Homo sapiens: one gene and its partners. The protein of the gene in region 6 interacts with the protein of the main gene of each other region in a pairwise test. Each region holds a gene or a part of one and is shown on either strand. Other genes may lie near its edges. The genes, in order: HMBOX1, AP1M1, QRICH1, MISP, KCTD7, PAX6 and SIGLEC6.

The links.
Region 1: the proteins of PAX6 (region 6) and HMBOX1 interact in binary tests that used the Homo sapiens proteins (3 or more experiments, as listed by UniProt).
Region 2: the proteins of PAX6 (region 6) and AP1M1 interact in binary tests that used the Homo sapiens proteins (3 or more experiments, as listed by UniProt).
Region 3: the proteins of PAX6 (region 6) and QRICH1 interact in binary tests that used the Homo sapiens proteins (3 or more experiments, as listed by UniProt).
Region 4: the proteins of PAX6 (region 6) and MISP interact in binary tests that used the Homo sapiens proteins (3 or more experiments, as listed by UniProt).
Region 5: the proteins of PAX6 (region 6) and KCTD7 interact in binary tests that used the Homo sapiens proteins (3 or more experiments, as listed by UniProt).
Region 7: the proteins of PAX6 (region 6) and SIGLEC6 interact in binary tests that used the Homo sapiens proteins (3 or more experiments, as listed by UniProt).

Annotation. Positions count from the first base shown.
Region 1 is NC_000008.11:28,896,371-28,900,773, reverse strand, and holds part of HMBOX1 (homeobox-containing protein 1), read right to left. Parts: intron 1-4,403. UniProt on the Homo sapiens protein: Binds directly to 5'-TTAGGG-3' repeats in telomeric DNA. Associates with the telomerase complex at sites of active telomere processing and positively regulates telomere elongation.
Region 2 is NC_000019.10:16,221,578-16,225,980, reverse strand, and holds part of AP1M1 (AP-1 complex subunit mu-1), read right to left. Parts: intron 1-4,403. UniProt on the Homo sapiens protein: Subunit of clathrin-associated adaptor protein complex 1 that plays a role in protein sorting in the trans-Golgi network (TGN) and endosomes.
Region 3 is NC_000003.12:49,055,378-49,059,780, forward strand, and holds part of QRICH1 (transcriptional regulator QRICH1), read right to left. Parts: intron 2,514-4,403; coding exon 1,485-2,513; intron 1-1,484. UniProt on the Homo sapiens protein: Transcriptional regulator that acts as a mediator of the integrated stress response (ISR) through transcriptional control of protein homeostasis under conditions of ER stress.
Region 4 is NC_000019.10:753,209-757,611, reverse strand, and holds part of MISP (mitotic interactor and substrate of PLK1), read right to left. Parts: intron 3,166-4,403; exon of another isoform or gene 2,803-3,165; intron 723-2,802; 5' UTR 666-722; coding exon 1-665. UniProt on the Homo sapiens protein: Plays a role in mitotic spindle orientation and mitotic progression.
Region 5 is NC_000007.14:66,638,881-66,642,116, reverse strand, and holds part of KCTD7 (BTB/POZ domain-containing protein KCTD7), read right to left. Parts: coding exon 2,885-3,236; 3' UTR 1,724-2,884; coding exon of another isoform or gene 1,723-1,723; 3' UTR 1-1,722. UniProt on the Homo sapiens protein: May be involved in the control of excitability of cortical neurons.
Region 6 is NC_000011.10:31,801,323-31,805,725, reverse strand, and holds part of PAX6 (paired box protein Pax-6), read left to right. Parts: exon of another isoform or gene 1-337; intron 338-684; exon of another isoform or gene 685-868; intron 869-1,666; exon of another isoform or gene 1,667-1,999; coding exon of another isoform or gene 2,000-2,142; exon of another isoform or gene 2,143-2,891; coding exon 2,892-3,022; coding exon of another isoform or gene 3,023-3,097; intron 3,098-3,813; coding exon 3,814-3,855; intron 3,856-3,949; coding exon 3,950-4,165; exon of another isoform or gene 4,166-4,403. UniProt on the Homo sapiens protein: Transcription factor with important functions in the development of the eye, nose, central nervous system and pancreas. Required for the differentiation of pancreatic islet alpha cells.
Region 7 is NC_000019.10:51,518,903-51,521,981, reverse strand, and holds part of SIGLEC6 (sialic acid-binding Ig-like lectin 6 isoform 1 precursor), read left to right. Parts: intron 1-1,726; coding exon 1,727-1,900; 3' UTR 1,901-3,079. UniProt on the Homo sapiens protein: Putative adhesion molecule that mediates sialic-acid dependent binding to cells. Binds to alpha-2,6-linked sialic acid. The sialic acid recognition site may be masked by cis interactions with sialic acids on the same cell surface.

The DNA of each region.
Region 1 (4,403 bases), on a different chromosome or scaffold from region 6:
CAGAAAATTAGAATAAAGGAGAACTTAATGACAAAAGGTGGGAATAAAAAAAGACTGTCTTCTTAAGAGTTCATATACAAAAATACAGAGTTTAAGAAAATGAGCTGATGCCATAACCATAAAAACTAGATGTTTAGGGCATAATACTGTTAAGTACAACATCTAGAAAAATAATCATATTTACGCAAAATATAGCCCATGTCACGATCTACTGACATAAGCAATCAGAGAGGATGGACACAGTGTTTAATATGAGGCAGGCAAATATCAGGAAAGAAACACTCCCAATTATAAACAGATATTTGAGACTTCCACAGAACAAAGCATATAATAGGTTCTAAGTAGACATTATGCTGTCTATGCATTTTCCAAGCATTCTGAGGACTATACCAATTAGAATTACCTGATATACTTATGAAGGATATATATTCCTGGGCCCATCTCAGATTTTAGGAATCTGGGGGTAGAACTCAGGAAACAAAATATATATATATATATATATTTTTTTTTTTTTTTTTTGAGACGGAATCTTGCTCTGTAGCCCAGGCTGGAGTGCAGTGGCGCAATCTCAGCTCACTGCAACCTCTGCCTCCCAGTTCCCAGTTCAAGCAATTCTCCTGCCTTAGCCTCCCGAGTAGCTGGGATTACAGGCGCGCCATGATGCCCAGCTAATGTTTTAGTATTTTTAATAGAAACAGGGTTTCACCATGTTGGCCAGGCTGGTCTTGAACTCCTGATCTCATGATCCGCCCACCTCAGCCTCCCAAAGTGCTGGGATTACAGGTGTGAGCCACTGCGCCCAGCCAGAAACTAAAATTTTAATACTTTTTCCAGGCAATTCTTCAACACAAAAGTTGAGATCACTGTTTCCTTCTGTTGTAGCCTAAGTGCTTAGAACTCTGTGACTCCCCAACTATTTATCTCCTGTGGCTTTGTAATCTGACTCCAATCTTCTAGGTTCCTTAGTTGCCTATCCTTGACTTGTACTTATTTCTAAAAATCTTGGCCCTGGTTTGGTAATATAATAAAGACTTGGATATGGAAATTTTAGCTCTGAAGTCCATATAAACTCCAATACTGACATAGGAATAAAAAGCTCCAGTTCCTTTCCCTGAAATCATGGAGCTTTTGTTAAATATCACCTATGGTGTTGACTGGACATTGGATTGACCCAGTATGTCAATTCTTTTGTTGCCAGATCTGCAGAGAACAAGATGCTCACTACTACAGACTCAACTATTTGAATTCCTGCTTATTGTCTCTAAAGAAAGAAGGCACAAATTTTCTTGTCAGGGATGAATGACATTTGCTAAGAGAACAGTTGTCACTATATAGATAGAGGGTGCCTATGAGAATGTTCCAGTTCCTAGAGTAGTGATGAAATGAGTTCTCCTAAGATGTCTCTAGATCTTAATGATGGGACAAAAGAATGTCTACTTGATATGAATAAGAGCTTCTTTATTCAATAAGGGATAGTCTTTGATAGCAGCAATGAGGATCCTGATACAATGGCTTCTAGATACTTTCATGCTTAGTAGGTTAGTGATCCAAACTGTAGAGATAGTACGTTCATGTATCCAGGGCTACCTCTCATTCTCCTTCCTTAATCCTAGCTAGTTCTTATAGTCCTACTTTGTCATCTTTCTGGTTTGCCTGAGGTGACTAGAATAAAAAGCAAATCTTAAATTATAGGAGTCTTTTGCTATTTCCAGCAAACTGATCCTTGCAGAAAAGGATTAAATCCAACCTATCTTTGTATCCCACAAAGTACCTCATCACGCACTGCTAGACTTGACATGTTTAACTGAGTGCCTTGTTCAACACCAACAAGAGAACCCTCCTCATAAAAAGCATCTAAAAGCTTAAGCCTCATATAAAAGGTGCTTTCCACGCTACCTCCCACCAAGGTCACGGGATAAGGATAGACATTTAAGTCATGGTGGTCATGCAATGCATTCAGATTTCTCTCTTGCCAACTGAACTAAAAGAAACACACTGTCACCATCAACAGGTAAACTCTAGTTGAAAGAACAGTTCAAGTCAACACCATGGCAAATCAAATCCACTTACCAGTCAGAGAAGCAGAGACTATGAAAAACCAGGGCAATACAAACAGAACTGGAAGGGAGAAGTGAGAAAGGGAGATGAAGCAGACATGGAAGGAGATGCTGAGACAAGAAACCATTTATCACCAGAACGAGAGCTTGAGAGACTAGCTTCTCAGATTCCTAACGTTTCTCCCATTCACACAAGGTCTAGTCACTCTTCTTCAACCCAAAACAGCTGAATCCCTACAACGCCTGTCCTTGAAGCCAAATGATCCCTAATTCAAGCATTATTTTTTAGTACGTACACCAAGACAAATAGAAAGCTAGAAACATAAATCCAAGGAGGAAAAAATAATTCTACCAGGAAAAAACTGAAATCACAGGTAGCCAAAAAGCTTTGTAAATATGAATCTTATTTATCAGGAAGTACCATCAATATTTGTCATATTCCTGCTAATGAAACAAATTAAACTTTGTCTTTTTTTAATAGAAATTATCACAGTATTGACAAATGAAAAATTGTCTCAAACCCAGAGAAGACAAAAATCAGGTGATCTACCTTTATTTGTTAATACATTTGAAAATATTTTGTTAGCCTGTTTAAAGCAGACTTCCGTTGTTGTCTGTAATAATCGATAGTATATTGGATTAACAGCCTCATCTTTTAAGACAGGCTTTATAATCATATGGCTGATTAAGGGGCAGCAAAGTATAACCAACCCTGTAACTATCCTTTAACTTGTACCTAACAAAAATAGTAACCATAACCTCCCCTTTTATTCTGTAAAGATCCTTTTTCTGAAAATATCTTTGAACTAACTTCCTTTAAAGCTAGTTCCCTTGCAACAAGTACAAAATAAAACTATGACATATGCTGACAATCAATTAATCTGACAAGTTTGCATTAACACTGTCAAAACCAAACTAATGTCAAAATAGCTGTAATTTTGGTTATCTAACACAGATTCTAACATATCCTCTCTAGCAACAAACATACCATGTAAGCCTTGAATTTATTTAAAATTTAAATCTTTTTTTGTTTGTTTGTTTGAGATAGAGTCTCGCTCTGTTGCCCAATCTGGTGTGCAGTGGCGCCACCTTGGCTCACTGCAACCTCCGCCTCCCAGGTTCAAGTGATTCTCCTGCCTCAGCCTCCTGAGTAGCTGGGAGTACAGGTGTGTGCCACCACGCCCGGCTATATTTTTGTATTTTTAGTAGAGGCAAAGTTTCACCATGTTGGTCAGGCTGGTCTTGAACTCCTGACCTCATGATCCATCTGCCTTGGCCTCCCAAAGTGCCGGGATTACCGGCATGAGCCACCACGCCCAGCCTCATTTAAATCTTACACATTTTATTTGTGGACAATTTCAATGTTATCGTTAACTTTTACCAGAAAATTTTAATGGGTCCTAATATTATAATTCCTCATTTAAAAAAAAAAAACTAGCCGACCAGTGGCTTACGCCTGTAATCCCAGCACTTTGGGAGGCCAAGGCGGGTGGATCACCTGAGGGGGGATTCGAGACCAGCATGACCAACATGGAGAAACCCCGTCTCTATTAAAACTACAAAATTAGCCGGGCATGGTGGCGCATGCCCATAATCCCAGCTACTCAGGAAGGCTGAGGCAGGAGAATCACTTGAACCTGGGTGGCAGAAGTTGCGGTGAGATGACATCGCGCCATTGTACTCCAGCCTGGGTAACAAGAGCGAAACTCCATCTCAAAAAAAAGAAAAAAAAAAAAAACCTAGCCAATATTCAGATTCTCATAACAAAAAAAAAAATTGGTATGTTTGCAATGTCAGGTTCATCTAAAAAATAAACTTTTAAAAGAAAGTTTAAGTGGAATTTTTCATAAAAACTTTCAGGATGTGCCAATGCAACACTTAATGACAGAGATACACTCTGAGAAACGCACCATTAGGCAATTTCATTGTTGAGCGAACACCATAGAGTGTACTTACACAAGCCTAGGTGGTATAGCCTATTGCTCCTAGGCTACAAACCTGTACAGCATGTTACTGTATTAAACATTGTAGGCAACTGTAACGCACTGGAAAGTATCTGTGTTTCTAAACCTTGGAAAAAGTACAGTTAAAATATGATATAATCTTATGGGACCACTGTCATATATTCAGTCCGTTTTTGACTGAAACATCATTATGTACTACATGACTGTATTACATAAGGCAAAGAGTGAAATTACTGATCCAATAATTGGTTATCTTTCTCCTTAGCTATATTGACAAAACAACAGAACTTATGAAGAGGAGGAGAATCATTCAATCTTTGCAGTAAGAGTTCTGTACCTTGATTTTGGTGGTGATTATGCAATCTACACACCTGTGATAAAA
Region 2 (4,403 bases), on a different chromosome or scaffold from region 6:
GCTCGGCTGGACCTGGGCCAGGACCCTGTGGTCCCTGCTCAGCCGATGGGCTGGGCTGGGCTGGGGTCTCTTGAACCAGGCCAGACTTGCTTTTCTTGAAAGCTGTTTCTCCTCTTGGCCTCCCAGGGAGGCCACTGGCCCCTCACCCCCCAGGGCTTATGAGAGATGGTGCTTCCTGAGTCCTGACCCCTTCTTGCTTCTCAGGGCCACCCTGAAGTGTGATAACACTTGATCCAAAATAATCAACTTAAATCCAGTCACAGTGGCTAACACTGACAGCATTTCCACTGCGCCAGGCATTGCTCCACACACGCCTCGACAACCTCTGGGGCAGGGACTGTGGGGAGATGACCTGAGGGGCTGTAACCCACTGCGCATGCCGAGATGCATCTGAAAGTGCAACTGAAAATCCACACCGGGGCGACGGTCCTGCACCCCCTAGCCTGTCCTGCGTGAGCCAAGATGCTGGAGCATCTCTTCTTGCATCCATTTTAGAGGTGAGGAAACAGGCACAGATCAGAGGCCCCGTGCTGAGGGCACAGAGTGACTGGCAGAAGAATCGCTGGGGCTGCAGCCCTGGCCACCACTGCACACTGCTATGCTGCACGAGGCCATGCTCACACCAGCAAGTGGGCCAAAGGCCACCGACTTGGATACCTGGGCCCAGATGCTGGCTCCAGCCAGGCTAACATGTGCAGGGCCTGCATTTCCTGTCTGCAGAGTGGCAGGAGAGTCTGTGCAGTCTTATGCATGATGTCCAAAAAGCACTGGGTAGACAAACAAAAGCCCCTCACCAGCTTGCCGCCTCTGAGGGAATTGGGAAAACTGAGGTGCCAAGCAAATGACAGCCCTGGGAGGGGCAGGGAACCGGACATGGCCCCAAGGGCTCCGGTTCTGTCACCTTCCCCAGCCTCACCTCCTCGTGCTGTCCTGTCCTCATCTCGCAAGCGGCTCCCTGATCCCATGGTGCACAACAGCTTCCCTGCGTCTGCCTGCTTGTCTCTCTCTCTCTCTCCCTGCTGGGGGAAGCCACGTGGGGCTGCGCGCTGCCGTGTCCAGCACCAGAAACAGCGTGTGTGGCAGGAGGTGCTCAGTGGGCAAGCGGAGGCTCAGGAGCTCGGGACCCTCACTGGCCGGGGCTCCAGGAGCCCGAGCATTGGGATTTTGCCTGCCTCTTTCTCGGAGGGCCCTCCACTCCACTGTGACGGCCCCTAATTCCCCTTGGGTGCTGCCTCCCCCTCAGGGAGTTGGGACTGGCCCTGGCAGCCAGCTGTAACTGAACACATGAGGTCGTGAATGCCGCGAGAGCAGGCCCAGGGAGTGGAGCTGAAAAGCTGCCCAGCCCACGAGGCTGATCTCGGCCCTGCGGGCAGCAATCAGAACCTTCTCAGCTGAGGTGTGACCAGCCACGCAGAGCCGGTGCCCTTCCCAGGGCGGGTGCTGAAGGGATGCTTGCTCAGGGCCCGGCTGTGTAAGTACCAGGCTGCACTCAGATGATCGCATCTGGAGGCAAATGTTGACCCAGCCACCAGCTCTGCAAGCCACTTAGGAAGGTGGCATCCTGACAGCTGCCCTTGTGCTGACCTGTTTGGAGGAGTGGGATCCTTCCGGGCGGAGCCACATGCAGCAGCGCACTGTGGCGGGGACCCCCGCAGCCCTAGCGCTTTCCTGCTCGACTCTCTCTAAGCTGCCCCCTGGGACTTGCCTTTGCACCCCACAGCACCCAGATGGACCCTGTTTTCGGCTCAATAAACAATCAGACAAGAGTCCCCAGGGGAGAGGGGAATGTGGTTAGCGAGGCCACTGTCCCGTCCCGGAAAGTAAGAAAGCGAAGAGGTCTGCACGGAGTGCGCGAGACAGTCTTTCTGGGCAGCACTCTCCTTGGCAATTCCATGTCTGCAGCCTCAGTCCTCCAGAAATCCTGGCCCAGGTCACGGAGACACCCAAGTGCACACGTCTGGGGCTGAGCAAGCGTGCTCAATGCTGCACTGCCAGTGGCCGTCAGAAACGGGACCTGAGTGACCTGCATGACTGGATTGGCTGAGCCCATACAGTCCACCCACACCGCAGGGATGAGGCCAGCGTGAACACAAAAGAAAGCAAGCGGCTGGTGAGGCAGGTCGGCTGGCGCCCCTTCCCCTGCCACTGACTACAGCTCTGAAACCTGGGCAGGAGGCTTGGCAGCTGCCGGAAGACTGAAGACAGCAGCAGGTGGACCAGGGAAGAGCCACGAATGCAGAGTGTTCCCACCGCCCCCCACGAGAAAGTGCAGCAGCAATCTGGAAGCAGAAGTGTGCACCACAGAGCACACGAGAGCTCAGCAGAGCCTCCAGGCCTGGCTCTGGGGCCAGAAGAGGAACTCCTGACTCTCCTGGAAAACACAGAAGCCCCCCATCTCCCCTGTTCCTCATGCCCCAGGCCCTGTGGTGCCAGCTACTGTTCCGAGGGGGTGGGGCAACCGTTGTCCTTTTCTCTCTCTGTCCTCTCTCCATGTGGGCTGGGAAGTGGGCCCAATGGCAGACGTGTACAACAGTAAACCGCAAGGAATCAGAAAAGTACCAGGTAGACAGCACAGAGCCAGAAGCTCAGGAAAGTCACCCCATGAAGTGGTTTATGTCTCCAGAACTCTCTAGAATCGAGCATCTGTGAATCCTGTGCATATACCATAGTTTGACTTACGAAAGAGTTTGAGAACTGAACTAACCACTCGGGTCCCAGAATGACCACTGGGCAGTGCACGCCCAGGAGATCTGACCAGGAAATGGCACGGGGGCTTTAAAAACTGACGTGATGCTCATGGCCTACAGGTTGGGGATTGGAACTTGTGGCCTGAAAGTAAGATTGGCTGTTGGCTAAAACAAAAATATCAATATTTCCCATATAGCTTAAATAAGACCTAGAGTATCACCACATAATGCTCAAAAAGTCCAGGATGCAATCCAAAATTACTCAGCATACAAACAACCACGAAAATGTCAACTTGCCTGGAAAACCCAATCAACCACTGTCAACACTTCACAGATGTTGGGATTATCTGATGAAGACTTTAAACAGCTATTTTTAAAATTGCAAATGCTTGCAACAAATGTTAAAATAGAAAGTCTCAGCAAAGAAACAGATGATAAAGAAGAATCAACCAGGAGTTCGAGACTAGCCTGGGCAACACAGCAAGTCCTGGTCTCTACAAAATAAAAAATAAAAAAAAATTAGCCAGGCATGGTGGTGCGTGCCTGTGGTCTCAGCTACTCAGCACACTCAGATGGGAAGATCACTTGAACACACGAGGTTGAGGCTGCAGTGAGCTATAACTGCACCACTATACTCCAGCCTGGGCAACAGAGTAAGACCCTGTCTCAAAACAAAAACAAAAACAAAAACAAACAAAAAGAGAAGAATCAAATGGAAAATTTTTAAAAATATAGTAACTGAAATAAACAACTTGCTCAATGGACTTAATAGCAGAATGGAGGCCAGGTACAGTGGCTCATGCCTGTAATCCCAGCACTTTGGGAGGCTGAGGTGGGAAGATCACTTGCCCCAGGAGTTCTAGATCAGCCAGGGCAACACAGAGAGACCCTCATCTCTACAAAAATTTTTTTTTAAAAATTAGCCAGGCTTGGTGGTGCACACCTGTAGTCCCAGCTACTCAGGAGGCTGAAGCAGAAGGATCGCTTGAGCCCAGGAGGTTGGGGCTACAGTGAGCCATGCTTGCTCCATGGCTCTCCAGCCTGGATGACAGAGTGGGAACCTATCTCAAAAAAAAAAAAAATAATAATAATAATAGTAATAATAATAATAACAGAATGGAGATAAACAGGAAAGGGCCAAAGGACCTGTGAACTTAAAGGCAGTTCAATGTAAATTATCCAATCTAACAGAGAGAAGAAAAGATAGAATAAAATAAGCAGCCTCAGGGACACATGATATAATAACCAAAGGTCTTTCATGTCACTGGAGTCCTGAAGGAAGAGTAAAATGACAAAAACATATCTGAGGGCTGGGTGCGGTGGCTCATGCCTGTAATCCCAGCACTTTGGGAGGCTGAGGCAGGTGGATCACCTGAGGTTGGGAGCTTGAGACCAGCCTGATCGACATGGAGAAACCCTGTCTCTACTAAAAATACAAAATTAGCCAAGTGTGGTGGTGAATGCCTGTAATCCCAGCTACTCGGGAGGCTGAGACAGGAGAATTGCTTTGTAGAAAGTAAAAAAGTTCCTCTTCAAAGTTTCCCTTCTCACTAAAGAATAAATCATAAGTGTTAGAAATAATGTACATTCTATGTCCTTGTACTTTAACCGAAATATTTGTTTTAGACATAAAGGATGTTAGATATAAGGGAATGAGTACATTCTGTGTCCTTGTACTTTAACCAAGATATTTGTTTTTAGATGTAAGGGATGTTA
Region 3 (4,403 bases), on a different chromosome or scaffold from region 6:
TATTTTACCAATCAGTTCTTTTAGACAGGGTCTCACTCTGTTCTCTAGGCTGAAATGCAATGGCATGATCATAGTAGCCTCAACCTCCCAGGCTCATGCAACCCTCGCATCTACGCTGGGACCACAGGTATGTGCCATCACACTAGACTATATTTTTTAAATTTTTGTAGAGATAGGGTCTTCCTATATTGCCCAGGCTGATCTCAAACTCCTGGGCTCAAGCATTCCTCCCACCTCAGCCTCCCAGACTGCTGGGATTACAGGCAACTGCCACTGCACCCAGCACTAATAGTTTTTTTGTTTGTTTGTTTTGAGACAAAGTCTTGCTATGTTGCCCCAGGTTGGAGTGCAGTGGCACGATCTCAGCTCACTGCAACCTCTGCTTCCCAGGTTCAAGCAATTCTCCTGCTTCAGCCTCCTGAGTAGGATTACCTGGGATTATAGGTGTGTGCCACCACACCCGGCTAATTTTTGTATTTTTAGTAGAGACGGGGTTTCACCATGTTGGCCAAGCTGATCTCAAACTCCTGACCTCTGGTGACTCACCCGCCTTGGCCTCCCAAAGTACTGGGGTAACATGCATGAGCCACCGTGCCTGGCCCCTACTTTTTTCTTTTGACAGAGTTTTGCTCCTGTTGTCCAGGCTGGAATGCAATGGCGCAATCTCAGCTCACTGCAACCTCTGCCTCCTGGGTTCAAGTGATTCTCCTGCCTCAGCCTCCCGAGTAGCTGGGATTACAGGTACCTGCCACCATGCCCAGCTAATTTTTGTATTTTTAGTAGAGACGTGGTTTCATCATATTGGCCAGGCTGGTCTCAAACTCCTGACCTTGTGATCCGCCTGCCTCGGCCTCCCAAAGTGCTGGGATTACAGAAGTGCACCACCTCGCCCGGCCGCCCCCGTAACACAAAAACTCTTGGGAGGTCCCACCACATAGACGGCATATTCAAGCCTCCCAATGGTGATCACTTTTAACAGGCTCCTTATGAGTTATTTTAGCTTTTCTAATTCACCCACACTGTGTGCCCAAAGATGAAAAACAGAATGAACAATCTCACAGCCTCTCCAGTGATGAGTTTGTAATCTATGTGATAAACTACAAGTGTTTTGCTAAAACCATTTACTTATGATACAAGGAAACAGCACTGGGACACACTTGAGGTGTCCCATTCATCTACACCTGTAACTTTACTCTTCCTGAGAAGAGATTACAAAGAAGTGTCCATGGTACTTAAACCCAAAATGTCTCCAAAACTCCAAAGCAATTCCTGGCCATCTCATTTACCTCCAGGTACCAGGATAAACTCTTTTTTCTGTTGCATAGCCTCACGTGATGTTTCTCCCCCTCTTCTCCCAAATACTAAATACTGCATCACTGTAAGAGTAACAGCAGTAAATAAGCCAGAGGTTGCGAGGCAAGCTCTGTGCTGCACTGGGCCCTGAGGGACCAGGCTGCCTGCCCTACTGATAAGTCTTCACTTACTGAACAAGTAACTTGGAGTTGCTGCTGCTGCTGCTGTGGTGGTGGTGTCTGTTCCTGGGGAGTTTGCTGCTGCGGCTGCTGTTGGGGGTCCCATATATGGACAGTTTGAGCCGTATTCTGGTACGTGCCTGCCACAGCCTGCACAGCCACTGGAATGTGGATGTTGCCATTCATGAACTGTGCTGGAAAGAGAGAGTTTGCAAGGGTCTGCACTACCTCTTCATGGGAGTTTTTCACTACAGATGTGGTGCCCACCATCTTCTCCTTGTCATCCTCCAGCTTAACAGCTGCCAGGGCTGTGGGTGAGCCACTGACGTGAACTGCGTTGTAGGCTTCCTGGGGAATGGCAATGTGGGTAATGCTCTGCTGCTGAGGGTCCCCCCGGGGCTGGGCAGAATAAACAGGGATGGTCCAGGTTTCTCCTGTAGGGCTAGTAATGGTCCCAGTGGCACTGTACAGGTGGGCACTGTCTACTGTCAGTAAGTCTGGCCTCAAAGACACATAACTCTGCTGCTGGCCCTGTGGAATGGCCAGCACGGTGGCCACCGGCTGCCCTGAGATGGCGTAGGACACAGTGATGGGCATGTCCACTTTGCGCTTCTTCACTGGTTGGAGGACACTGGCCGTGCCAACCCGCCGCTCCCCTTCCCGGGGTGAGCCCTGCTGGGATGGTGGTGGGGAAAGGGCACCCACGGTCTGGATTTGGATCTGCTGACCACCAGCAAGAGACTGGCCAGCCACCAGCTGAGCCTGGATTTGCTGATGTGGGATGTGCTCCTCCGGGATTTCTGCAGCCTGGATCTGCTGGGCTGCTTGCACGTGCTGCACCTGGATCTGAGCTGCTTGCAGCTGCGAGGGACTGGGACTCTGCAGAGACGGGGTCTGAATGGAGGGGGCTGCTGACTGTGGTGCCTGGCCTTGGATCTGCACCTGGACCTGGATGGGTTGCTCAGTAGGCTGGTGAACGGTGAGTTGTGGGGAGAGCTGAGCCGAGACCTGTTGCGGAGACTGCTGTACCTGCACCTGGACCTGTAAGCAACAAGATTCATCAGTGAGTGAACCAGGCAGCACTGAAAATCCAGTACCCAAGGAAAGAAAGAAAAGAGATCCCAGACAGGGGACCTGCAAAATGTGAGAAAACACTGGCATACTCAAGGCTTCTGAGAAGGACACAATACGTAAGACTAGATCCAGGATTGTCCAGCAGCACATTACAATAACAGGGACATATATCCACCCCAGAGAGCAAGCAAGACAATTAACTGGGGCCTAAAAAGGAAATACCAAAAAAAAAAATTTTTTTTTTTTAAGATGGACTCGCTCTGTCGCCCAGGCTGGAATGCAGTGGCGCAATCTCAGCTCACTGCAACCTCCGCCTGCTGGGATCAAGCGATTCTCCTGCCTCAGCTTCCTAGAGTAGCTGGGATTACAGACATGCTGGAGTCTAACAAGGAAATATCAAAACTTTGGTTCTTTTTTTTTTTCCCCAAATTCTCATTGTGTCGCCCAGGCTGGAATGCAGTGGTGCCATCTCAGCTCACTGCAATCTCCACCTCTCAGGCTCAAGCAATTCTTGAAGCCAGCCTCCCGAGTATCTGGGATTATAGACATGTGCCACCATACCCAGCTAATTTTTGTATTTTTAGTAGAGACGAGGTTTCACCATGTTGGCCAAGCTAATCTTGAACTCCTGACCTCAACTGGTCCACCCACCTCGGCCTCCCAAAGTGCTGGGATTACAGGTGTGAGCCGAAACGGCCGGCATTTTTATTTCCATTTTCTTTGAGGCGGAGTTTTGCTCTTGTTGCCCAGGCTGGAGTGCAGTGGCATGATCTTGGCTCACTGCAACCTCAACCTCCTGGGTTCAAGCAATTCTCTTGCCTCAGCCTCCTGAGTAGCTAGGATTACAGGAATGCATCACCATGCCCAGCTGATTTTGCATTTTTAGTAGAGACAGGATTTCTCCATGTTGGTCAGGCTGGTCTCGAACTCCCGACCTCAAGTGATCCGCCCACCTTGGCCTCCAAAACTGTTGAGATTACAGGCGTGAGCCACCACGGCCAGCATTTTAAAAATTGTTTTTGAAATGGAGTTTCACTCTTTTTTTTTTTTTTTTTTGAGACGGAGTCTCGCTTTGTCGCCCAGGCTGGAGTGCAGTGGTGCCATCTCAGCTCACTGCAAGCTCCGCCTCCCGGGTTCACGCCATTCTCCTGCCTCAGCCTCCCGGGTAGCTGGGACTACAGGTGCCTGCCACCACACCCGGCTAATTTTTTTTTTGTATTTTTAGTAGAGATGGAATTTCACCATGTTAGCCAGGATGGTCTCCATCTCCTGACCTCGTGATCCGCCCGCCTTGGCCTCCCAAAGTGCTGGGATTACAGGCGTGAGCCATCACAAGGGACCGTTTTTTTCTCTAAAGATAGGGTCTTGCTCTGTTGCCCAGGTTAGAGTACCGTGATAAGATGATAGGGCACTTTAAACTTCAAACTCCTCAAGTGATCCTCCCACCTCAGCCTGCTAAATAGCTAGAACTACAGGAACACCACCACCACACCCAGCTAATTTTTTTTTTTTTTTTTTAGACAGAGTCTCGCTGTTACCAGGCTGGAGTGCAGTAGTATGATCTCAGCTCACTGCAACCTCCGCCTCCTGGGTTCAAGCTATTCTCCTGCCTCAGCCTCCTGAGTAGCTGGGACTACAGACGCATGCCACCACCCCCAGCTAATTTCTGTATTTTTAGTAGAGACGAGGTTTCACCATGTTGGTTGGCCAGGATGGTCTCGATCTCTTGACCTTGTGATCCGCTCACCTTGGCCTCCCAAAGTGCTGGGATTACAGGCTTGAGCCACCATGCCTAGCCTTATTTATTTATTTTCTGAGATGGAGTTTCGCTCGTTCCCCAGGCTGGAGTGATATGGT
Region 4 (4,403 bases), on a different chromosome or scaffold from region 6:
CCTGCAGGGGTCCCCCTGGCCGGGGAGCTATGAGGGGCCCCCTTGTTCGCCTGCTCCAGACTCAGGAACTGCTGTCTCGCTGCCAGGAAGTCAATCTGCTCCCTGTCAACCACGTTCTCCTCCAGGGGCGTGGACCGAGGTGGGCCGGGGGTCCTGGGGTCTCCGTGGTCAGGAGTGCCCTGGAGCGTGGCCACGGTGCTGCTCTTCCTGACTGCCTGGCCCTGGATGACGGCCCAGCGCTCCCGCTCCAGGTCACACAGCCTCCTGGGGTCAGCGTCCCCAGCATCCAGGCGGTAGGTCTTCATCTCCTTGTCCTCCCCGTCCTCTGGGCGGAGTGCCCATGTTGGACGTCCCTGGTGGGCATCCCTGGCGCCCAGGCGGTAAACCTGCCAACCCTCATCCTCCCTGTTCTCCGAGTGGAGCCCCCGTGGGGACGGCTGGCCAGTGTAGGCATGCACGCTGTAGGACACCCCCTGCCTCTGCACGCCCTGCTGGGCCCTGTGGTCAGTGGGCCATGTCTGCGGCTCATCCTGGCCCCAGCCGCTGGCCTCGGGGCCCATGCACACCAGATGGTATGTGTAGCTGGTGTCTCCATCCAGCACCAGGCCGGTGCCACGGTGTGCCTGAGGGATGCCCAGGATGGGGTATCTGGTCACGCGGTCCATCTCTTCCGGGGTCTTGGCCTCAGCCTTCCTCCCGTGGGGTGGAGACCTCTGGGCTTACTGAGGGAGGAGAAGGAAATGAGGGCCATCAAGTCAGAGCACCTAGGGAGAGGAACAGCCTCCAGTCCCCCAAAGGGCAAAGGGTCCATCAAATGGCCTTTGTGATTGGTTTAGGGATGGGTAAGTGACACAGTCCAGCCACTCAGAGCAGCCCATTCTCTAACCTCTGTGATTGGTTTAGGGGTGCGTAAGTGACAGTCCAGCCAATCAGTGCATCCCATTCTCTAACCTCTGTGATTGGTTTAGGGGTGCGTGACACAGTACAGCCACTCAGAGCAGCCCATTGTCTAATCTCTGTGATTGGCTAAGGGATAGGTAAGTAACTCAGCCTGGCCAATCAGAGCATCCCACCTTCTGGCCTCTGTGATTGGTTCAAGGATGAGTAAATGGCCCAGCCTGGCCAGTCAGAGTAGCCCATTCTCTGGCCTCTGTGATTGGTTCAGGGATGGGTAAGTGACTCATCCTGATCAATCAGAGCATCCCACCCACTGGCCTCTGTGATTGGTTCAAAGATGGGTAAGTGACCTAGTCCAGCCAGTGAGAGCATTTCACCCTCTGGCCTCTGTAATTGGTTCAGAGATGAGCATGTGACCCAGTCTAGCCAATGACATGAGACCCTGGGACTTTACAATTAATGCAGAAGATGGGACCCTCTTCCCGCTGGTCTTGTTAGGCTGATGGAATGAGATAGTGAATTGCTGGGGACGTAAATGCCCCCAGTGGGTACAGCTTGCTTGACAGCAACCCCAACACCAGCAAAGCATCCTGAAAACTTTTAAGCTCCCTGATTCCAACCATACCTGAATCTCTGAATGTCCCGGTTACTACCCCAACAACTCGCATTATATGTTTCTAACATTTGCAGCCCAATAAAATCAGGGTGCCCTGCCCACCTTATCTCCCAGACACACACACCTGCCCTGTGGAGTCCAGCTCAGCCTTGATTTTTTTTTTTTTGAGATGGAGTCTCGCTCTGTTGCCCAGCCTGGAGTGCAGTGGCACAATGTCAGCTCACTGCAACCTCTGCTTCCAGGTTCAAGCAATTCTCGTGCCTCAGCCTCCTGAGTAGCTGGGATTACAGGCGCTAACCTCCCAAGTCCGGCTAATTTTTTGTATTTTTAGTAGAGACGAGGTCTCACCATGTTGGCCAGGTTGGTCTCGAACTCCTGAGCTCAGGTGATCTGCCCGCCTCGGCCTCCCAAAGTGCTGGAATTACAGGCGTGAGCCACCGCGCCTGGCCTCAGCCTTGATCTCTGAAGCCTTCCTTGGCCGCACCATATTTATCTGTGTCTCCTGTGCACTGAGCCTTTCCACCCTGAGCTCACTCTGAGACTCCTGGTGTGGGATTTTTCCATCTGACAATTACAGATGGCCCCTTGCTAAGGGATGTCAAATGGAGAAACTGAGGCCCAGAGAGAAGGACTGACAGCAACTCCAGTTTCCCGGCTCCCACATCCTGGTTCTCCACCCTGCCCTGCCCAGCTGGACACCTCGTCCCATCTGAGACAACATCCCCGCCTGGGCCTTGTCGCCATAAAGCCAGGATGGGCAAAGGAACACCGTGGACCTTGTCCCGCTGGGCCCAGGTGGGGCCGTGGAGCGAGCGGGTGACACCCTGACCCAGTGCCTTCCGGCTCTCGCCCTCTCCCAAGGGTCCAGGTTGCTGCTGGGCTCAGTTCCAGGAGCCTTCCCGGAGGTCACACACCTGCTCGCATCGCTTCTGTGGCTCCTGGCATCTGCAGGGCACAGTTCTCACACCCTGCTCCTGGCCTTAGCACGAAACCCCAATTTCTGTGGGCACCTCCACCCCAAGCCAGGCCCTCCTCTTCTACCCCAAACCAGACCCTCCTCTTCCACCCCAAACCAGGCCCTCCTCTTCCACCCCAAACCAGGCCCTCTTCCTCCACCCCAAGCCAGGCCCTCCTCTTCCACCCCAAACCAGACCCTCCTCTTCCACCCAAACCAGACCCTCCTCTTCCACCCAAACCAGGCCCTCTTCCTCCAACCCAAACCAGACCCTCCTCTTCCACCCCAAACCAGGCCCTCTTCCTCCACCCCAAACCTCGCCCTCCTCCTCTACCTGCAGCTCTCTCTGTCTCGAGGCTGCCTGTTTCTGCTTCTCCACGGCTTCCTCTGCTGAAGCCCATGGACACCTCCTCCAGGAAGTAACCCAGATTGCCCCTCCCCCAGAGCCATCATCTGAACACCTCCTTCATGTCAGGCCTTGTACCCAGCACCCGTCTTAGGTATTGTCTTTTGTTTTGAGACAGAGTCTCGCTGCGATGCACAGGCTGGACTGCGGTAGCGTGATCTCAGCTCACTGCAATCTCCACCTCCCGGGTTCAAGCAATTCTCCTGCCTCAGCCTCCTGAGTAGCTGGGACTACGGGCACCCGCCCCCACACCCGGCTAATTTTTTCTTTTTTTTGAGGCGGAGTCTCACTCTGTCGCCCAGGCTGGAGTGCAGTGGCGCGATCTCGGCTCCCTGCAAGCTCTGCCTCCCAGGTTCACGCCATTCTCCTGCCTCAGCCTCCCTAGAGCTGGGACTACGGGCGCCCGCCACCACGCCTGGCTAATTTTTTGTATTTTTAGTAGAGACGGGGTTTCACCATATTAGCCAGGATGGTCTTGATCTCCTGACCTCGTGATCCTCCCGCCTCGGCCTCCCAAAGTGTTGGGATTACAGGCGTGAGCCACCGCGCCCAGCCAGGACACCCGGCTAATTTTTGTATTGTTAGTAGAGACGGGTTTCACCATGTTGGCCAGGCTGGTCTTGAACTCCTGACTTCAGGTGATCCGCCTGCCTCGGCCTCCCAAAGTGCAGGGATTACAGGCGTGAGCCACCGTGTCCAGCAGACATCATCTTTCATAGTTGAGGAAAGGAAGCCTCACCTGAAGACACAGGGATCTCAAAAGCTTGAGCTCCTGACTCCTAAAAAAAGCACTGTCGGCTGGGCACAGGGGCTCAGGCCTGTAATCCCAGCTACTTGGGAGGCTGAGGTGGGAGAATCACTTGAACCTGTGAGGTGGAGGTTGCGGTGAGCTGAGATTGTGCCATTGCACTCCAGCCTGGGTGACAGAGAAAGACCCTGTCTCAAAAGAAAAACAAACCCCCACAAAGCAGGACTGTCGCTCCCGGGCCACCAAGGCTATTATTTAGATCTGCTGCCTTTACACCAACCAGCAGCATTTTTTTTTGTTTTTAAACAGACAGGGTCGGCCAGGCACAGTGGCTCACACCTGTAATCCCAGCACTTTGGCGGATCACGAGGTCAGGAGATCGAGACCATCCTGGCTAAAATGGTGAAACCCCATCTCTACTAAAAATACAAAAAAAATTAACCGGGTGTGCTGGCGGGCGCCTGTAGTCCCAGCTACTCAGGAGGCTGAGGCAGGAGAATGCTGTGAACCCGGGAGGTGGAGCTTGCAGGGAGCTGAGATCGCACCATTGCACTCCAGCCTGGTGACAGAGCTAGACTCCGCCTCAAAAAAAAAAAAAAAGAAAAAAAGAAAAAAAAAGAAAAACTTAGCCCCTCTCTGAACTGGAAAGTGGCATCAAACAGCATAAAGTGGAGAGACCGTGGGGAGCCGTGTTGAAACTACACGCAATGTGTCATGCAATCTTCCGCGCGTATCAAATGTCAGAAACTAAAATAGGGGAAACATTGAAAACCAGGCGGCA
Region 5 (3,236 bases), on a different chromosome or scaffold from region 6:
TGTTATGGCGAGCATTGCACCATTGGTCCCATCTCCTGAAACTTTCACTTTGCTTTGACTCACTGATAACTACTGGCCCGTCTCAAGGCAAGATGAATCCAGTCCCTTGTCAAGTGAGAGGGATTTACTGACATTATGCACAACAATTCTATAAAGATGCACTTCCTTATGATCAGGGAGAAGCTTTCATCCTTTGGAGCCTTCCTTCCAGACCCAACCCTTCTTCTGTTCTGGGCCTGGCCATTTAGAGTTGAAAAGGGATCAAATGGGGAAAAGTCACTTCCACAGGGATAACCCCTTTATCTGGAGGCCGTTACCACAATCCACCACATCTAATTGCACTTTTCAGCCTGGCCTTGGTTTCTCATTAGAGAATGGCGAAACTAGGCCACTGAATTCCTTCACTCCATTTAGAAAGAGCTCTCAGCTTGCTGCCCAGTGTCACCTCTCTGCCTGTTCTACTGGCCCAGAGCCTTGTGTCCTACAGTGGCACAGAATACATTACTGTGAGGATCACAAAGGGAGTCAGAGAAACAGGGATTTCTCCAGCGAGAGAGAGGAACGGTGTTCTTACCCAGCATCCCTGTAATCCTAAGCAAGCCTTCAGGACCTGTTTTTGAGCAAACTTGCATTTGAGCAAACAAGTCTCTCAATGGCTTGCATGTATGGACTCTAAATAACCAAGCCCTGCCATGCTCCATGGGAGAAGGGGGAAGCAGAAGGGGTCAAGGCCACATTACTGAAAGCAATGGGCTTAATGAACTGCTCTCTGTTCACACAGACTTTTTCAATAGTCTGCCTCTCTGTCAAAAAATGAACACATATTAGGCAGTAGGTAACACCAATCAGAAGAACCAAAATGAAAGCCTTTTCTCTTAGAACAATACAAGAGCCATGTTTTGGGGCTAACCTCCAAGCAGGGACATCAGCTCCAGAAAAGAGACTATCCCTTTGTGTACGAGAACAATAGAGAGAGCGCATATCTCAGAACGTGAATGACTATCCTTTCCTCTTAGATCTCAGTATCCACCTCTTTTCCACCTCTAAAAGAGTACAACAGGAGTGCAAAACCACGCCCTGGAATCTTTGTTTACACATAGGGAACAGGAGATCACTGCCGTCCAGCCCCACGGAGGAATTCAGCCAAAGTCCCAGGGCTTGGTCTTCTCTTCCTCATATGAACACAGACTTCAGCTCCCCTTATACCCATCTTGTCTATCTGGTCCTGTAAGTCTGATACCAGTGAGGCTGTCCTCCCCAATTTATTTATTTATTTATTTATTTTTACGATGGTGTTGCCCAGGCTGGAGCACAGTGGCTAGCCACAGGCACGATCATAGTATACTACAGTCTTAATCTCCTGGGCTCAAGTGATCCTCCTGCCTCAGCCTCCAGAGTAGCTGGTACTACAGGTGTGTGCTCGAGTGGCCTGGACTACAGGCGTGTGCCCAAGTAGCTGGGACTACAGACATGTTCCTGGCTCGCATCAATTCTTTACACATTAAAAAAAAAAATCTCCCTTTACCCAGGAAGAGACAGGTACAATCATGATTAGAGAGAGACACCCTTAATGCAGCATGGAAATGTTACATTGTGATCAATGGTGCTACACAGTTCTTCCTTTAGGAGATGCATGTCCAGACCCTGACTAGTTGGCCTAGGCTGTAGACAGAGCAAGAAGGAAATGCAGTAGTAACAGATCCTTGGGGATCTTTTTCAATTTCTGAAATAGAGGAGTAAGTAAACCAAAATATACAGGAGTGAGGAGTAAAACAAAATATAAAGAAGTGAGTAAAACAAAAATAGAGGAGTGAGGAGTAAAACAAAAGGGAAGTTTTGTCTTCCTACGGCTCCTAGGATAGCTGTGTGTCTCACCCAGCCCTTCCTTTACCTTCTCAGAAGAGAGGCTCTCCTAGAAGGAGAATGTTACCAGGACAGAGGAACAGGGTTTAAAGAGAGGGGGTCCCCTTCCAAAGAGGTTCACCACAAACTGGATTCTAACACATGAGATAGCAGCCAAGGAGGTGTTCTGAGCCTCTAAAAAGGATGTTACATGTCAAAGATAACAGAAGATCTAGGCATCTTGCCTGCTTGACTTGGGGAATCTTCAAAAGAAGCCTCTGAAATTTGCATTCCAGCCCTGTGAGAAGATAACCCTGCAAGCAAGGAAGGTGGTGGAAGATAAGAGAAGCCGCGGCCCTAAGACAGGGCTGTAAACATTGTGGTTTTCTAAGGCCAACTGGGTGCATAGCTTTGGCAGCTATGGTTAAATCTCCAAAAGGTGGTGAAGAACATGTTCCGGAAGGAAAAGAAAAGTCTTTCCACATTTTGGGAATGTGGGCAACTATTCTTGGAGGAGAAGGGGTGCAGTGGGAGAGAAGATGCTCTTTCTTCTTCAGCCAGGGGCTATGGGGTGGCTGGTCAGGTAAATCCCCCATCATGTTCCGTGTTCACACCAATATACTGAGCACAAGGGAGGGACGCTTGAACAGGGTTGAGGAAGTGATTAGGCCTACATCGATTTGGTAACGTGGCTCTAAAATGGGCAGAAACTCTCTTGCAAGGTCAAGAAGGTGACAAAACTTCTCGGGACTTCCTGGTCAAGCCCTAGCTATCAGCCTCAAGGAAAGACTACCATGCCTTGAGGAAAGGCCAGGTGAGCGCTGGCTGGAGTGCCTGCAGGCCGCAAGCCCTGAGCCCAACCCTGAGGTGCAGTCAGGGAGATTGGAGCTACACCTCTGTCCCCTGGGAGCTGTGCCTCAGGATGCTGTTCTCACCTCGGCAGATTCTGGGGCAGTCAGCAGCCCCTTCAGGGATCTTACTCCCAGAGCCACCAAGCAAGGTGGACATCCTCCCTGATGGGACTCTCGCCTACCGGGGCTACTCACCACCATGTGATCTTGAACTCATAGATGGGGCGCTTGCAGTAGTAGTGGTTCACGAGGTGCTTGTCACACACCCCGATGCACTGGTGGTCCACGGTGAGACCCTGGGCCGAGAGGTCCGTGACCAGGCAGTGCAGCAGGTCATAAACATCAGCCACAGCCTCCCAGGGCCCAAAAGACACATCCACTTCACAGTGGTGCTCAAAAAGCTGCCCGTCACTCTCACTCCGCTCAAATCGCAGGGAGTTGAGGAGCGGACACTCATAGGGGGTGATGGGCATCTCCTCCTTGAAGACACAGACCTTGAGCTTGGCAAAGCGGGCCTTCCGCTGGACCGCACGCAGCCGGGCG
Region 6 (4,403 bases):
GAGCGCTTTTGATACTTATGGCCCTTGTACCTCCCTGCTTTCCTCTGCCCAGACCCCGTGGGGTCCCACCCACCTTCCTGTTCGTGGTGGGTGCTGGTACGCGGCAGGGCTAGTCTAGAGCTCCGACCTGGGAGCCTGGAGGCCCAGCGAAACCAGGCCCGGTTTGAGGTTACGGTTGAGGCACACGGCGTCGGGGCTCAACTGAACTCAAAGTGTGGAAAGGCCCGGGTCTTCCAGCAGCCTGCCCTGGCCGAACCACACAGGCTTAAGGAGGGTCCCCAGCACCTTATCCATCTGTTTTGGAAACGCCGGTCGCCCCCTGGTGCTTCCGGGGCTGGTAAGCGCGTAGCTGAGGAAAGGGCACAAAGGTGGCGAGCTTTGCGGGAGTAGTTGTGCAGAACCTGCCGGACCCCAGGGCTTGGCCGGTAGGCTCGCCTTCGGCGGCTGGGCTCTCCCCTTGGAGCTCAGACTCCCCAGCCGCAGGCTGTCTCTCGGGCGGGCCCCAGCCAGGGCGCGCAGCCCTGAGCGTTTGTCGCTGCGGCCCGGCTGGCAGGCCCCGAGGGGCGCGGGGTCGCGGGCCGGCCGGCAGGGCTTTGTGCCGCTCGTTCCCGGGTGTGCGCGAGGCGCGGAGCATCCAAATTGACACCATATGTTTTCCTATTAGTTGCTTCGCGGTCGAGTTCTAGGCGCATAATCATCGCCAGTGGGCGAGAGCGCCAGCAGTCCCTAGGGAAGGGACACAATGATTGAGGCTTAACCTCTGAAGGGGAATTTGGAGCTGCGCTTTCTCTCTGCCATTTCGATGCTGGGAGTGGCGCTCTGGCCCTGGCGTCTCCTGGGCAAGCACCAGCCGGCGGTATCTGCGGAGGTGGCTGGCACGTTGTTATTTTTTGAAATGAGTGAGGAGGGAGGTCTAGATTTAGGCGGCCTTACGCGCCCGCCTTGGCATTAGCAGACTGGGAATTGCCGTGGCTATGCCCGAAGTTTGGAAAGTCTCTCTCGGTCTCTTTCTGGGACAGCCTTTCTTTTTCCGGGAAGCTTCCTGTGCCTAGAGGTGGGGCTCTGTAGCTGGAGGGGTAGATGGAACTTGCGAAGCAAAGGAAGGCAATAAAAGGAAGTTAGGAGAAACCGGAAACGTGGGCCAGGCCTTGCTCTGTTGGAGAAGCGGTGTCCCCGCAAAGTCCCTGCTTGCGCTGGTCCCGGCCGGAGCCCAGATCCCCCAAACGCCTGTCACTTCTCATCGAGTTGAGGCTCCGGCCCCCACCCGCGCCTTGGTGAGGGCCCCCCCTCAGCCCCAAGCCTTCGGCTACCCTGAAAACGCGGCTCCCCTCGAAGGGGAAACAAGTGCAGTTCAATCTCGTCTGAGTGATCTACAAATAAGGACGGAAAGGGTCGTTTTATCACGGTCCCGTTTGTCGTGACGATGCAATTTCCCGGAGCGGAGCACTGTCACAAAGTGACAAGGCTGCCACAAGCGCCCCGACTGATCTTTTCAATTAGCCTTCCATGCATGATCCGGAGCGACTTCCGCCTATTTCCAGAAATTAAGCTCAAACTTGACGTGCAGCTAGTTTTATTTTAAAGACAAATGTCAGAGAGGCTCATCATATTTTCCCCCCTCTTCTATATTTGGAGCTTATTTATTGCTAAGAAGCTCAGGCTCCTGGCGTCAATTTATCAGTAGGCTCCAAGGAGAAGAGAGGAGAGGAGAGGAGAGCTGAACAGGGAGCCACGTCTTTTCCTGGGAGGGCTGCTATCTAAGTCGGGGCTGCAGGTTGGAGATTTTTAAGGAAGTGGAAATTGGCAATTGGCTTTGTGTGTCTGTGGTTTTTGGGGAGGGGGACTACAAAGAGGGGCTAACTCCCTCTCCCTATTCTCTAAGGTTGGACCACAGGGATGAGGTTGTGAGATACAAAGATAAAGGAGGGATGGGGAACACTATGATGTGGTATTTTTCTTTTCTGTTTTTTCTTTTTGATAATATCTATCCTTGGCTAAGGGGAGGGCGGAGTTCAGCGGCGGAAATAAAGCGAGCAGTGGCTGGTGCGAACCGACTCCCGGCTCTAAGCCTTACTTGCGGTGGCCGGACTTGTCTGTGGCTGAAGCCGAGCCCGGGCTCTGACTCTCACGTCTGCACTGGAGGTGCGGAAACCTGGACTGGGGTTCACCAGCCACATACTGGCTGCTCTGGTTGTTCTCTCCTCTTCCTTCTTCTATTCTAACCAAACAAAACCCAACTCGATGCTTGTGCCAGGCCTTGGCCAGTTTGGACGGTGATGGAAACATTTCTGGATTTTAGCGTCTAAGGGAGCACTCAAGGGCTGTAAGGTTTGCTATCACTGTCCCAACACTGCAGAGACCTTGAAGGTTCAGTGTGGGATCTGTAGAACCCATGGTTTGCGGTGACACTCAGAGGGGATCTTTGGGAGATTTATAGAGCCGGTTCTTAGCGCTTTGTGGGTTCAGAGGCTGGCTGCAGTGTTTATGAAGAGGGGCAGTGGGCTGGGGACACTGCTGGGGTTATGGCTGTAGTGAGGTCCATGTGTACTTGTTCCTTGGCATGTGTCTGACTCTGTGTTGCTGCTGCAGTACAGTGGGCAGGGGCACGGTTGCTTGGACTGGGCTGCCCGATGTCTGGCATGGCTGGTGGTCCTGTTGTCCTTTATTTGATCGATAGCAGGGAACTGACCGCCGAGGTTGGCACAGGTTGGCAGGGGGATGAGGATGCATTGTGGTTGTCTCCTCCTCCTCTCCTTCTTCCTCTTCCCCTTCCTCCTCTCCTTTCTGTTCTTGTTCTCCCTCATCTTCCTCTTCCTTCTTCTCCCTCTTCTTCCTCTTCACTCTGCTCTCTTCTCTTCTTTTCCCCTTTCCTCTCCTCTCCCTTTCCTCAGGTCACAGCGGAGTGAATCAGCTCGGTGGTGTCTTTGTCAACGGGCGGCCACTGCCGGACTCCACCCGGCAGAAGATTGTAGAGCTAGCTCACAGCGGGGCCCGGCCGTGCGACATTTCCCGAATTCTGCAGGTGATCCTCCCGGCGCCGCCCCACTCGCCGCCCCCGCGGCCCTCCACTCTCAACGCCCTCTCTTCATTTCTTACTGTAAACGATGCTAATTATGGACCCCCCCACCCTCACCCACCCCAGTCCCCAGTCCCCCCACCCACTCCCCTGCCTTCCCACTTTCCCCTCTCCTTCCACCATCCTTCCCTATCTCTTTCAACCTGGGTCAGTTACATAAGATAACTCATCTGCTTCAGAAAAATATTGTGTGCGGATTTTTTTAAAAAAATCTTTCTCTTTTTATTTGGTAAAGACATTCATTGTGGGAACAGTTTATGAACCGTAATAAGCTGAGTTATATAAACCGGCATAATTTCATTCTGCTCTCCCCAGCCCATGCTTACCTCAGCTTTTGAGGTATTTGTTTATTCTTCATGTTTATGAATAATATATATTGATTTTAAAAGGCAAATGCTATTTACTCCTCCCTAACTCACATTTACTCAATTGAGTATTTTTTAAAGAAGAAGAAGTAAAAAAATCAGTTTATTTTTTACCTTTGTTCTTTAAAACATAACGCCACTTTAAGCAAGGTCAGCACAAAAATAAATTTATCTACTTCGTTTTGATGCATCTTCAGGCAGTGTTTAAGAAAAGTTTTTTTTTTAAAAAAAGCTTTTAAATTCGTTTTTTAGTTCAAATTGTTTGAAAGTATCATCATATTTGTAGTTTTTAGGGCTACAAATGTAATTTTAAGAAAAAAAGCTCTCTACAGTAAGTTCTCATACCATTGAAGGTATATTTTTGTGTTATAGACCCATGCAGATGCAAAAGTCCAAGTGCTGGACAATCAAAACGTAAGCTTGTCATTGTTTAATGCATACTTAAACAATTTTATTTTTGTCTTGAAATTATTAATAATGTGGTTTTCTGTCCACTTCCCCTATGCAGGTGTCCAACGGATGTGTGAGTAAAATTCTGGGCAGGTATTACGAGACTGGCTCCATCAGACCCAGGGCAATCGGTGGTAGTAAACCGAGAGTAGCGACTCCAGAAGTTGTAAGCAAAATAGCCCAGTATAAGCGGGAGTGCCCGTCCATCTTTGCTTGGGAAATCCGAGACAGATTACTGTCCGAGGGGGTCTGTACCAACGATAACATACCAAGCGTAAGTTCATTGAGAACATCTGCCCTCCCTGCCCTAAGCCCAATGCTCTCTCCTCTTTACCTCCTCCCACCCTCTCTCTCCACTGTCTCTTAGTCTGTGTCCTCTCCCTGCTCCACATTTGTCTCCTTTGTACCTGGGGGAACAGAGAGGAATGCCCTGACTTTTCTTTGACTGTCTGGAAAATGGGAGTCAAGTGTGGGGAGTCATTCACTTCATTTGCATGCTGCAAAACAGAGGG
Region 7 (3,079 bases), on a different chromosome or scaffold from region 6:
CACAGTTTCATAAGACTCTTGTGTTCTGCTTGAATTTATCCTCCACGTACTGCAGTTTGGAAATTGTCATTTGATCATGAGACTCACCTCATTGGTTTCCTTTCTTTCAGATGTCACAGTCCTGTCTGCCTGTTTTCCTTGTGAAACACATATTTTACATACTATGTATAGTTTTCTAATTATGCTGGGAGGGTGCCAGTTACTCTACCATAGCCTGAGTGAGAACTGACCAAGAATAATTCAAGTCATGATTCCTGTTGTTCAGACCCTCAGGAAAAATTGGTGCTGGGGGAGGTAATACCTAGACTGTCTTCCAAAAGTCTGGGATGTGTGGATGGGGGAAGGTGGCCAGGGGAAGCCCAGGGAGAGGCAATTTCCACCTGTTATTTTCTTCATTCAGTAGGGCTTTTGTGCTGATCTGTCATTTCTCCTGCAGAAATTCACACCTTTAGTCTCGGACTTTGCCACTGATTTGTGTAGCAAGAATGCAGGCAGGAATATATTATCCCAATGATGGAGGAAAGACATGAGTGGAACATAAATCTCATTTCTGTAGCCATTCACGCACTGTCACCAATGCCTCCCTGAACACACACACACACATATACACACACACACACTCCAGTATAAAATATTTTGTTTCCCCAGAGATTTCCCACTTTTTCTTATTTGCTCATTCCATAATTTCTTGTATTGCCTCTTGGTTTATTTGGAGATATAACACACTTAGTGTGTGTTAAATCCCCACTTTGTTGGGAATCATTACATAATTTCTTTACCATGCTTTACTTTCAAGTTTTCAGGGGCATTAGAAAGAGAAGGTACAGGAGAGGGCGTCCGGTGGCCTGTACTGCAGGACCCGGTCTCTGTTCTGTCCTCCAGTACCTGTCTAGGAATCAGATATGCCACTCCTGCCCCTGCTTTATATTTCAAAATATCTGCTATCATGAATTAAAAAAGTGATTTTGTTTCCTGTTTTTAACTAACTGCATCTCATAGAAAACCACACTGCCTACTATCTGGGACTGTGTCTGCTTTCTTCATGGCTTAACATCTAGCACATGTCACATGACCTACACAACAATAAGCTGGTTCTGAGTCCTTCTCAGTGGTGCATTTATATAGATGTGTGTCTATAGGCAACATGTGGAGCCTCTCTTAGCCTTAGTGTTCCCGTTTGTAAGATGAATGTAATCATGGAATCCACTGCAAAGCATTTTTTGAGAATAGAATATGACTGATTAATGTAAACACTCACTAAGGGCTTGCCAATCTTAATTATTAAATATTTTAAAATAAATGAATGCGGTGGATGTGGTGGCTCATGCTTGTAATCCCAGCACTTTAGGAAGCCAAGGTGGGTGGATTCCTTGAGCCCAGGGTTCAAGACCAGCCTGGGCAACATAGTAGAACTCCATCTCTACAAAAATTAGCCAGGTGGGGTGCATGCCTGTAGTCCCAGCTACACAGGAGGCTGAAGCAGAAGGTTCATTCGAACCCAGGTGTTCAAGGCTGCCTGAGCCGTGATCATGCCGCTGCACTCCAGCCTGGACAACAGAGCGAGACCCCATCTCAAAAATAAAATAAAATAAAATGAAATAAAATAAAATAATAAATGAATGGATAAATAATAAAGTTCCATCAGTTCTACTCCCTTTCTGATCCTTGGCTGCTTTCTTTGAGAACCTATTGTCCAGCCCTGAATCTTTTCTTTTCTTCCATTAAGGGTCATCAGCACCAGTTCCAGACAGGCATAGTTTCAGACCACCCTGCTGAGGCTGGCCCCATCTCAGAAGATGAGCAGGAGCTCCACTACGCTGTCCTACACTTCCACAAGGTGCAACCTCAGGAACCAAAGGTCACCGACACTGAGTACTCAGAAATCAAGATACACAAGTGAGGAATTGTCCAAAGCCATAACCTTGATTGGAGAGAACATGGTACCTCTCAGTGTATTGGTTACTAGGGCTGCCACAGCAATGTACCACAAACCGAGTGACATAAACACAGAACTTTATTTTCGTATAGTTTCAGATGTTAGAGGTCTGAGAACAAGGTGTTATCAGGGTTGGTCCCTTCTAAGGCCTCTCTTGTTGGCTTGTAGATGGCTGTCTCCTCCTTGTGTCTTCACATGGTCTTTCCTCTGAGTGTGTTTGTGTCCTAATCTTCTCTTCTTATAAAGACACTAGTCATATTGGATTAGGGCCTCCCCATGACCTAATTTAAATAAATTAACTATTTAAAGACCCTCCAAATACAGTAACCTTCTGAGATATTGAGATTTAGGACTTCCAACATATGAATTTTAGAAGGGAACAATTTAGCCCATAACACTGTGTCCAATTCTTTTAAAATTAATGTTTTTGTTGTAAATGGACTATATAAATACCTTCGTATATATGGCAGACCACAGGACTTCTGTCCAAGAGAACTGAGTTCAACTCCATCTATGCCAGCTATTGAGCAAGTCGCTTTATGTCCCTGCTCTGTAAGGCAGGGAAATAATTTCCATCTAACCAGATTATTGTGAAAGGTCAAAGAAAGCATACAGCTAACATACAGCTTTGTTAGCTGTAAAACAGCTAACAAAGGCCCTGACACAAAGGTTTTCATAAAGTCTGTATATTTTTGTAAATGAATGCCTTGTATCTGGCTTTGGCTAGCTTTTTTTTTTTTTTTTTTTTTCTGAGATGGAGTCTTGCTGTATCTCCCAGGCTGGAGTGCAGTGGTGCGATCTTGGCTCAGTGCAAGCTTCGCCCCCTGGGTTCACACCATTCTCCTGCCTCAGCCTCCCAAGTAGCTGGGACTACAGGCACCCACCACCACACCCGGCTAATTTTTTGTATTTTTAGTAGAGACGGGGTTTCACCGTGTTAGCCAGGATGGTCTTGATCTCCTGACCTCGTGATCTGCCCTCCTCGGCCTCCCAAAGTGCTGAGATTACAGGCATGAGCCACCGCACCCGGCTTTGATTAGCTGTTTTAACAGACGGTTTCTGCTGGCAATTTCTTCTAAGGCTGAAAAGGAGTAGGCCCAGAGGCCACAGCACCAGGTGTCTGTGTCACCCCCTGTTCAGAAC